3 linked regions of the Homo sapiens genome follow. The protein of the gene in region 1 purifies or fractionates together with the protein of each later gene. This does not show direct contact. Each region holds a gene or a part of one and is shown in the gene's direction. Other genes may lie near its edges. The genes, in order: GPR137B, NCAPH and SMC2.

Region 1 (4,083 bases):
ATTAGGCACGAAGTGGAGTAAGAAAAGAAATCACAATTACTGGAGCCTCGGAAATCCGAGTTTCTTCTGTTTACCAGAACCGCTTGCCCAGCAATGTTTCCAGAGGGCGCCCGGCTTTCCCTCTTTTCCCAGAGCACTCCCCAGCTCTCCCAAGACAAGGGTGGCGTGGTGCCCCGGGGCAAAGACTAAGTCGCTGTACAGCCTCGAGGAGCGAGCTGCTCAGCAAAAGCAAAAGAGAAGGGCTCTCGGGTGGCGGGGACAGACCCTCCTTCGGCATGGGTTGGATCGGACAAGGGGGGCCGTGTGCCGTCAGCTGCCCCACTTCTCTCTGAAGCCCAGTGGGCTCCATCCACTGACCCGCGGCCCGCGCGCCTCCCGGCACCGGCTACATCGCTGGGAGGTGAGGCGCTGGGAGCGCGTGAGGCTCTCCGGGAGAAAACAGCCCAGCTTGCATCCCAGAGGAGGCAGCAGCCGCAGGCACCGTCTATTTCCTCACTCAGTATACAAATTTGACCTCAAAAATACGAACCCTGTCTTTGGCATGTCTGCATTTAGAAATAAACATCATTCCAGACGCCGGCCAGTTCATAGCCACAGAGTCGTAAAGTTTTATTTTTAAAGGGGGGGACGGAAAGGACTTGTAAAGTTTTTTTTTTAAATTTGTTTTTAAATAAAGGAATTAACTTCTGCAAAACAAGCAATCAGCAGCAGAATGCGCGAGGCCACGAGTGCGATCCCCCGAGGCGCGGGGCGCGGCTGGGAAGTTTTGGGGGCGCGCGGCGCGGTGCCGGGACCGGGGAGGAGGCGCGCGGTTCTGGGGGCGCGCAGTGCGGGAGCGCGCGGCCCCGGGGATGGGGAAGGGGCCGGGGACGGGTAGCGCGCGGCCCCTGGGATGGGGAGGGGGCGGGAAGGGGGGAAGAGACGCGGGGCTCTGGGGGCCCGCAGTCTGGGAGCGCGCGGCCCCGGGGATGGGGAGGGGGCCGGGAGGAGGCGTGCGGCTCTGGGGGCGCGCACTGCGGGAGCGCGCGGTGGCGAGGATAGGGCGGGCCGGGGTTCGCGGGGCGAAGGCGCGCGGTGCCCGGGGGAGGGCGGGCCGGGGCGCGCGGGCCGGGGCGGGGGCGCGCGGGCCGGGGCGGGGGCGCGCGGGGCCGGTCGGCGCGCGGGGGCGGCGGGCGCGGCGCTGCCAATCGCAGACAAAGGCCGTCCCAGTGAATCATGTGGTGCCGGGGGAGGAAGTGCGGCTTGTTTTCTTTCCTCCAGTCTCGGGGCTGCAGGCTGAGCGCGATGCGCGGAGACCCCCGCGGGGGCGGCGGCGGCCGTGAGCCCCGATGAGGCCCGAGCGTCCCCGGCCGCGCGGCAGCGCCCCCGGCCCGATGGAGACCCCGCCGTGGGACCCAGCCCGCAACGACTCGCTGCCGCCCACGCTGACCCCGGCCGTGCCCCCCTACGTGAAGCTTGGCCTCACCGTCGTCTACACCGTGTTCTACGCGCTGCTCTTCGTGTTCATCTACGTGCAGCTCTGGCTGGTGCTGCGTTACCGCCACAAGCGGCTCAGCTACCAGAGCGTCTTCCTCTTTCTCTGCCTCTTCTGGGCCTCCCTGCGGACCGTCCTCTTCTCCTTCTACTTCAAAGACTTCGTGGCGGCCAATTCGCTCAGCCCCTTCGTCTTCTGGCTGCTCTACTGCTTCCCTGTGTGCCTGCAGTTTTTCACCCTCACGCTGATGAACTTGTACTTCACGCAGGTGAGTTTCAGAGAGGCTCCTGGAGGCGCTCACCTGGCGGGGTGGTCCCCGCGGGGCGCCCGAGGCAGGGGCGATGGCAGCCGCGGGGGCGGGTCCGGCCCTAGGGCTGAGAGTGTAGGGAGAAGGCGCCGGCTCTGGGGTCGTCCGAACCCTGTCCTGTTTGCGGGCATTTGTCATAGGAAACCCCCTGCCATTCCCAAAAGGGGCAAGGAGAAGGCAGGGGAGGGCTGGAGGCCGCCGCTCACTCGCTGCCCCTGGCTCCGCATCGTGCGGTGGATTCGGGGCGCTTCTCCGTGCGCAGCGCGAAGCAGCAGCGCCTGCACACGCCAGTTAGTACGGATGGAAGGTGTGCCCCCAAGGGAGGCCTGAACTCTAGAATTTGCCCTGCCTCCCCAGGCACCTAACTCCCGGCCTGGAAAGGTCTTCTGCACGTTGGCCTCCAGATTTGGGCCTGACACTGCTGTTTTGAGCGTTGGCAGGGTGAGACCATGTTGGTTTTGATGAGATGTTTTGAACCTCCGGCTTAGGAGCTCTACAGAACTGCGGCTTACTAACTCATTCCACCGGATTGCTAAACAGCAGGCTGGGGTAACACCCAGCTCCGAGCTGCTGCCGCTCATCAGAGTTACTGTCTGAGCTCATCTGAGAGGCCCCAAGAAAAGGCCATAAAAGCTGACTGGGGCTCTTTTACAGCCACACAAAAATCACTTTATGGGGCATATTATTAAATAAGCTAATGGGAGAGTATGTGAATTAACTTGGCTGCTGCTTTACTGCTGATGGTTGACTTAATGAAAGTGCAGTAATTGTTGAGCACTTTGCAAATACTTTGTATAGCGTTGCACAAAGGTTTAATAACGCGGTGCCGCCGTCATCATCGTCATCATCATCTCTGATTCCCATTAGCTTTCCAAGCACTAAGATGTCCATTTTCACTAGGACTCTGCCGAAGGGGAAGGCGTCAACGGTGTCACCTGGTGAGGGTAATTTCAGAACTGTCGGATGGGCAGAAACCCTGTGCAAGCAGGCATCTCATTCCTTTTAAGTGTCTTTTTTTTTTTTTTTGAGAAAAAGTCACTTATTTAAAAAAAGAAAGAGGCCGTATGCGGTGGCGCATGCCTGTCATCCCAGCATTGTGGAGGCGGAGGCGGGAGGATCGCTTGTGTCCCTGAGTTTGAGACCGGCCTGGGCAACATGGCGAAACTTCCTCTCTACAAAATGTACAAAAATTAGCTGGGTGTGGTAGTGCCCGCCTGTAGTTCCAGCTACTCAGGAGGCTGAGGTGGGAGGCGGAGCCCGGGAGGCGGAGGTTGCAGTGAGCAGAGATTGAACCACTGCACTCCAGCCTGGGTGACAGAGCTAGATCCTGTCTCAAAAAAACAAACGAACAAACAAACAAAAAAAACAAAGTAGGAAAAGGATTGCTCTGGTACAGTGGAAGCCACTGACTGAAAATATGGAAGAAGTACTTTTGGCTAAAAAATAGCATATGTGATATTTTGTAGATAGTATAATCTTTTAAAAATGGGTCTACACTCAGACTTCTTGTAAGTCCAGCGCATCAGCATATTTTCCGGTCGGAGAGTAATGCGTATTGCCTGTCCAAGTACAACCTTTAAACCTGCAAACCAGTTCAGGCAGTCGGCTGCATTGCACAGACACTTGGGTTTTGTAATTGAAATGAGGTGGTTCTAGCAAGATGCAAAAGACAGGTGAGGTGATGTTACCCTAAGAACTGTGACAATGGTGGTATTGCACGTTGAGCTCTTTATATTTGTCCCCTTTTTGGGGGGCAGTGGGGGAAGAGGAAAATGCAGGGAACTGCCACAGCTCTCTGGTAATCACATGCAAATTCTGAACTTAGAGCCGGATTAGGGGCCGGGCTGCACATTTTCTGCACCATCTGCTGGTTGGTGAGTAAATGCTGAGCAAGGGAAACAGTGACCAGGCAGACAGAGCCACTCCGGCCCAGGGGCCCAAAGTCACGGCCCTGTACTCTTTATATCTCCCAGGTCTGCGGGCACCACAGCAAAGGCTTTTCGCCTGAGGGCACAGGGTGGCTGGCTGGAGAAGGTGGCATGTCTCCATCTCTGAGTGCTGGCATCTCAGAGCCTGGCAGAACAAAGCCATTTCTGGCTTAGTGACAAAACTGTGATACTTCTGGGGAGTTATAAAGCCTTTTGTCGCCAACCCAGCTCTGCCTCCCTTCTCCTCCTCTCCCGCTCACCCCCTCTTTCTCTTACACAAACCATTGGAATTACCTAAAGTGGGGAGCTTTAAGAATGACTGTTGCTTGGGCCCCCATCTCAGACCAAGTAAATGAGATTTTTGGAGAAGGGGC
Region 2 (3,650 bases), on another chromosome or scaffold:
GTTGTTTTATGTTTTGTTTTGCTTTTGAGACAGGGTCTCACACTGTCACCCAGGCTGAAGTGCAGTGGTGAATCATGGCTTACTGCAGCCTTGACCTCCTGGGCTTAAGCGTCCTCCCACCTCAGCCTTCTGAATAGCTGGGACTGCAAGGGCATGCCAGCATGCTCAGTTAATTTTTAAATTTTCCATAGTGATGGGATCCCGCTTTGTTGCCTAGGCTGGTCTCGACTCCTGGCCTCAAGTGATCCTCCTGCCTTAGCCTCCCAAAGTGTTGGGATTACAGGCATGAGCCACTGCACCTGGCCAAGCATATGTTTCTGATGTGTTTTCTTAGCCAAAACACAAATTATAAGTTTAGGATGAAAAGAGGGTGTGTGATTGAGCACTCCTACTGTTGTGATGCTCAGACACAATGCTGCCTTGTGGTTTTGATAAGCCTTGATAAGGCTGTCAGCAGATCTTGTGAAATGAGTAAATAGTTTAGGCCACAGAAGTGAAGTGCTGACGTCTGTGTTCACTCTGCAGAAGATGCTCCTTCCCAATCAGAAAACAAAAAGAAGAGTACAAAAAAAGATTTTGAAATTGACTTTGAAGATGATATTGACTTTGATGTATATTTTAGAAAAACAAAGGTTTGTACTGAATTTATTAGGATTGTGCTTACTCGTTTTTCCCTTTCAGATGTGATTTTTTAAAATTCCGTATAAATTTAACTGTTAGAGCAAACAGATGGTTTCATTCTTCCTTGTTCCTTAAACGCACTATTAAGAAATAGTCCTAAACTCAGTGGCAGAAAGAATCAAATTTAGAATAAAAAGAATAATGCTAGCAAAATCACTTTTTTACATAGAACTGTGAGACTGATGGTAGACTCATGCTGCCCAAACCCTTCCCAGACTGCTTTAAAAAAAGTAAGATGTTTTGCCCACTGTTAAAATGCCTAAAACACTTTTTTTAAAAAAATTAATAGGCTGCTACTATTCTGACCAAGTCCACTTTGGAGAACCAGAATTGGAGAGCTACCACCCTTCCTACAGATTTCAACTACAATGTTGACACTCTGGTCCAGCTTCACCTCAAACCAGGCACCAGGGTAAGCCTATTTCTTGGTTCCTTTAAGCACACAAGGTATCAAGTGGCTGATAGTATGACAGTTAGGCAGTGCCTTTGAGGAAAAGGGAGAATGTGAGGAGTGGTATGTGTTAGCCAAAGCGTGTTGCCAGGAAATCAAATAGATAAGGCAAAGAAAGCTAAAAGGAAAGGCTTATATGATGGACACACAGTAAACACTTGGAAATACCTTACCTGGCAAGAATGCTGGATACTGAAGCCTCCATGCTGAAATTCAGGGGGGCAGTGAGTGTAGTTTTTTGGTGAAGTTTCAACAGTTTTTAAGTTATTTCTTGATTCCTTTGCTTTCTCCTTTTTTTTTTTTTTTTTTTTTTTTTTGACAGAGTTTCGCTCTTGTTGCCCTAGGCTGGAGTGCAATGGTGCAGTCTTGGCTCACTGCAACCTCTCCCTCCTGGGTTCAAGCAATTCTCCTGCCTCAGCCTCCCAAGTAACTGGGATTACAGGTGCCTGCCACCATACCCAGTGAATTTTTTGTAGTTTTAACAGGGACAGGGTTTCACTATGTTGGCCAGGCTAGTCTCGAACTCCTGACCTCAGGCGATCCACCCACCTCAGCCTCCCAAAGTGCCAGGATTATAGGTGTGAGCCACTGTGCCCACCTGATTCCTTGGCTTTCTCATTGAAGTTGTGGATTTACTCACCAATTGCTTTATACAGTGAGGTTGCCTTACTCATGATCCAAGTCGAAGCGAGCCCAAGGTGACACACGGGCTCACATCCTCAGGAAGTCTCCTAGGGCTCTACAGGCTGCTGGGGCTCCTTCTGAGATTGTCACATGGAGCCTTCTGAATTACCTGGTGTTGCACCCTGATTACTGCCTCCTTCATTTGCCTGGGGCTCTTCTCACATGTCCCTGCTGACAGGGTAAGCAGTGGTTCGTGTAAACCATTCCATTCACATCCTCTGCTTACTTGCATTACTGGTTCTCCTACTCTCATGGAGTGTATTAAGACTTTATACTTTCCTCTTTATTTTGCCTGTTTTTCCACAAGATTTTAATGATATATATATATATATATACATATATATATATACACATATATATGTATATATATGTGTATATATATATATATATATATATTTTTTTTTTTTTTTCCCTGAATTGACTGATATTACACATTCTATTTGTTTTTTTGTATTTTTTTTTAGAGACAGGGTCTTGCTCTGTTGCCCAGGCCATAGTCCAGTGGTGTAATTGGAGCTCATTGTAACTTTGAACTCCTGGATTCAAGCAGTCATCCTGCCTCAGCCTCCCAAAGTACAGGGATTACAGGCGTGAGCCGTTACACCTGGCCTCACATTCTGTTTTTATAAACTAACCAAGATATGTTTTTCTTTCTGATCAATATTGTTTACTTCAATAGAAATACTCTTTTTTTTTCAGTCCTAGCTACTTGGGGGCCTGAGGCTATAGTAAGCTATGATCATGCCAGTGCACTCCAGCCTGGGGGACAAAGTGAGGCCTCATCTCAGAAAAGCAAAACAAAAAAAAAATTGTGATTCATGAGAGGGGGTCAAAATATCAACATTAACAGGAGTTTGGAAGAAGTTGATTCTGACTCTTATGGATGATTTTGAGGGGTTCAAGACTTCAGTGGAGGCCAGTCACGATGGCTCACGCCTGTAATCCTAGCACTTTGGGAGGCCGAGGTGGGTGGATCGCTTGAGGCTAGGAGTTTGAGACCAGCCTGAGCAACATGGCGAAACCCCGTCTCTACTAAAAATACAAAAATTAGCCAGACATGGTAGTGCAGGCCTATAGTCCTGGCTACTCAGGAGGGTGAGGCACGAGAATCACTGGAACCCAAGAGGTGGAGGTTGCAGTGAACTGAGATTACAGTACACTGCACTCCAGCCTGGGTGACAGAGCAAGACTCTGTCTCAAAAAGACTTCAGTGGAGGAAGTCATTGCAGATGTGGTATGCAGATGTGGTAGAAATAGCAAGAGAACCAGAATGAGAAATGGAGCCTGATGATGTGACTACATTGGTACAATATCCTGATAAAACTTGAATGGATGAGAAGTTGTTTCCTATGGATGAGCAAAGAACATTTTCTTGAGATGGAATTTACTCCTGGTGAAGATGCTGTGAACATTGTTGAAATGATAAAAAAAAAAGATTTAGAATGTTACATAGTCTTAGTTGATATAGCAGTGGCAGTGTTTGAAAAGATTGACTTTGAATTTGAAAGAAGCTCCGCTATGGATAAAATGCTATCAAACAGCATTGTATGCTTCAGAGAAATCTTTAGTGACAGGAAGAGTTGATTGATGTAGCAAACTTCATTGTTGTCTTATTTTAAGAAATTGTCGCAGCCACCCCATCCTTCAGCAACCACCACCCACCCTGACAGTCAGTAGCCATCAACATTGAGGCAAGACCCTTTAACAGCAAAAATATTACAACTCACTGAAGGCTGATATGATCATTATAATTTTTTAGCAATGAAATATTTTTAATTAAGGTATGTAAATTGTTTTTTAGACATATACTGTTGCACACTTAATAGACTCCAGC
Region 3 (3,650 bases), on another chromosome or scaffold:
GCTATGTTGGCCAGGGTGGTCTCAATCTCCTGACCTCATGATCTGCCCGCCTTGGCCTCCCAAAGTGCTAGGATTACAGGTGTGAGCCACGGCGCCTGGCCCAAGATTTTGTTTTTAAAAATGTTGTCAACTCCTATTTACTGTCCATCTTATCATTTATCACTTACAGATTTTCTCCTCTATTTTAATGGAAGCCTCTGGTTGAAAAAAAAAAAAAAAAAAGAAGCGTAGGCCACGTTAGGACAGAATCCTGTTCCATGTCATTAGGCATCCATCAAATATTTATCCTTTAGGAACTGTCACTAAGTCTCTTACTAATAATCTACCTAATTGTTCCTGTCCTCATTCAGGCCATAAACTTGTATCTTCACCAAAATTATAAAATTTTTGTCAGAGAAGGGTCTTCAAATACATTAATATATGAACTACCAACCTAGTAGTCCTGTCAGGAAAAGAAATGAACTAACATTTATTCAATATTTATTAAATAGTTGATGTATATTGGGTGTTCTTGAATGTACTGGGATGTACAGTTAGAAGAATGAGAAACAGAGCTTGTCTTTAAGGACTTCAATCTGGTAGATGAGACAATCATACCCAATAAATGACAATTTAAGTGTGATAGTAGAGTATGGTGTCTGGGATGACTTAATGAAACCATACTGAAGCTCCATGATTACCCTTTCTTTTAAATGGTCATAAATCATGTCTTTATTAATAGCTTTTTGAATCTTGTCAAGAATTGATACTAAGCTACTTTGTCTGACATCTATTCCTGTTGAAAAGTAGAGAAAGCCTCTAGAAAAATTACAGAAAGAAAGTAACTAGGAAAGTGTGTTTTACATATACTTGGAAACATAAAGCTAGAAGTTACCTCGGAGACCTAGTCTGGTGCAGGCCAGGGTAAGAGGCTTGTGTGTAATTACATAACTAGTTACCAAAAGTACTTGCATTAGATACTAGCTGTCCTGACTCAAGTTAGCGTTTTTGACCATGTCATACTTGTTCCACTATTTATGCAGAATTGGTTTTGTTTACTGCTAGTCAGACAGAACAAATAAACGTAAGCTAATATACTTAGTTTATCCTAGCACAAGGTGTGCATGTACATTAATATTTAAAAAATTGCTTTCTTTTATAGGTGGTTATTGGTGGTAGAAATAAATATTTAATCAATGGAGTCAATGCCAACAACACCAGAGTACAGGATCTCTTCTGTTCTGTTGGCCTTAATGTTAACAACCCTCACTTTCTCATCATGCAGGTATTTCGTTTGAGGTCTTTATATCACTTTCGTAATAGTTTCGACATTTTTTACTTTTAAGCAATTAAAATAGAAGTACTTTATGTTTTGGATTTTATACTTTTTATTTACTATTGTGCTGTGTCCGGCCATCTGTTTAGAAATATGGTTTAGTTACTTGCACTGATATATTCTACTGGATTATAGACCTTTGACTCCTCTAGAATGTTTAGAAGTAATTTTTGTTGACTTTTTGTTTTGTCACTAAAAGAACAATACATGTTAACTGTAAAAAAAAAAAAGCCATAATATATCCTTTTAAATTATTGGATTAATGCATCTTAATATTTCAAGTATAAAAGCTTGAGTAATTTTCTTAGAGACTCACACAAATGAGGAGTAAAGGCTGATTTTATCTTACATTTACATTACTTCATTTGACCCATCCAGCTGCCGTTTGAGAGAATTATAGTAAAGTCGATGGGAGCATCTCAGTGGGACCAAAATAAAAATATTTCCACTACACACCTTCATAGTTGAAACTTTACTTTAAATGAATCTACATTCTAGTAATACAATTCTCTGAGACCTGGGTGTGCAGGTGTTTTGCTTTATTTGTTTTTGGTAATGAATAAATTTAATGGTTTTCTGGCATTGATGTAAAATATTGTATTTTGTTTGAGGCCTAGAAGTATGTCATCTGTTTTGTGAAATTATCCTGGAGGGTTATCATTCAAAGAAATGTTAAAAGTTTTTTAATTATGCTGAAATTTCTTTTTATATTTACCTGTTTTAAATTTGAATATTTCTACTTAATGTTAACTGTCTCAGAAACATGATCCTTGTTAACTTTGTATCATTTAATGAATTATTTCATTTGTATCATTTCATAACTTCCATAATTTGTATCACTGGTGAGAAAGTGAATAGCAAAGTTCCAAAATTCTAGAATCATAGAAGAATTATAGAGGAAAGACCCCCCCAAAGATTGGTATATTGAGATACAACAGCTTCAGTCTAGATAAACATGAATGGCAGTACAGATAAACATTTTCTGTAATTTGTTATCTTAGTAAGTTTGCTATTTTATTTTCAGGGCCGAATTACAAAAGTATTGAATATGAAACCTCCAGAGGTAAGAGTACTATTTATGGACATTAAAAATAGTTGGTATAGATATTACTTTAATCTTTCAGACAATTTTTAAATATTCTATTAAAATTTTTGGAGACATTATTTGGGAATGATTAGTAAAGACAGTTGTATATTTGTGTAATATTTGGCACTATGCCCAAATATTAAAATTGATTTTGATTGTATAAAGGAGTCTTGCTTAGCTGGTGTTTCATGTCAGAATTCATTCCTACAGAAAAAGCCTACAGGAAAAGGTTTGTGTGAAATTACTATATTTAACCTATATGGTTCATTTGGGCCAACTTTTGGTAAGATGTTTAGTGAGGTCAAGGCAAAAATGATATATTTAATGTAAATTCCAGTTGGACACATTGTCTTGGATACTAAACATTAATAAAATTGTCATTCCAGATTTTATCCATGATAGAAGAAGCAGCTGGAACCAGGATGTATGAATACAAAAAAATAGCTGCACAGAAAACTATAGAAAAAAAGGAGGCTAAGCTGAAAGAAATTAAGACGGTAATTTAATTCATATAAAATATTTTCGGAGAAGAATGTAATTTTGCATGTAGAGTTTTTGCTGTAAAGAGGGAAAAATTTTTTTCCTTGGTTCAGTTTTCCATAGTCATCCCTGCTACTTCTCTTTCAAATAAATTTTAATGATACTTTACATGCGAAAATACTGATTTTTCTTTATTTTCCAGATACTTGAAGAAGAGATTACTCCAACCATTCAAAAATTAAAAGAGGTATATTCTGTATATGTGAGGATAATCTATTAGAATGTCTTTCAAAGTCAGCAATGTATCCAAAATCATACACATAGTGATACTATTTCTTGGGGGTTTTTTTCCTGCGATGAGATAAGGAATTAGAGTTGGCACTCCATAACTCAGCGTTCTGCTTACAGAGGATATGCACTTATCTGCTAAGTCATAGGATATTGGAGAGTAATTTTTATAGTTTCAGAAAATGGTATGCCGAATTTTAATACTTTATTTAAGCTAAGCAAGTCTGGATTTTCCTAGTTAGTTAGCATTGACTGGAACAACATTTCTTAAAGATAAGGCACTCTTAGACACCCTCATTGAGAACAATTTCCAGGATAACAGGGGCTATCACTATAATTATTGCTATCAAGGTATTTTGTAAGCAAAAGGTATTGAAACAGAGGATTGGATTGTCTCTGTAATCTTTGCAGCTCCTGACTGTCAAAAGACATGGCACAATATGTCATCAAAAAATGCATTTATGAGCTACGTTTTCTTTT

What was found.
Region 2: the proteins of GPR137B (region 1) and NCAPH purify together in Homo sapiens (affinity purification with mass spectrometry; 3 studies listed by BioGRID and IntAct, with this or other methods). This does not show direct contact.
Region 3: the proteins of GPR137B (region 1) and SMC2 purify together in Homo sapiens (affinity purification with mass spectrometry; 2 studies listed by BioGRID and IntAct, with this or other methods). This does not show direct contact.

Annotation. Positions count from the first base shown.
Region 1 is NC_000001.11:236,141,295-236,145,377, forward strand, and holds the start of GPR137B (integral membrane protein GPR137B), read left to right. Parts: upstream 1-1,244; 5' UTR 1,245-1,328; coding exon 1,329-1,742; intron 1,743-4,083. UniProt on the Homo sapiens protein: Lysosomal integral membrane protein that regulates the localization and activity of mTORC1, a signaling complex promoting cell growth in response to growth factors, energy levels, and amino acids.
Region 2 is NC_000002.12:96,359,618-96,363,267, forward strand, and holds part of NCAPH (condensin complex subunit 2), read left to right. Parts: intron 1-525; coding exon 526-632; intron 633-970; coding exon 971-1,093; intron 1,094-3,650. UniProt on the Homo sapiens protein: Regulatory subunit of the condensin complex, a complex required for conversion of interphase chromatin into mitotic-like condense chromosomes.
Region 3 is NC_000009.12:104,097,305-104,100,954, forward strand, and holds part of SMC2 (structural maintenance of chromosomes protein 2), read left to right. Parts: intron 1-1,141; coding exon 1,142-1,264; intron 1,265-2,339; coding exon 2,340-2,378; intron 2,379-2,788; coding exon 2,789-2,899; intron 2,900-3,084; coding exon 3,085-3,129; intron 3,130-3,650. UniProt on the Homo sapiens protein: Central component of the condensin complex, a complex required for conversion of interphase chromatin into mitotic-like condense chromosomes.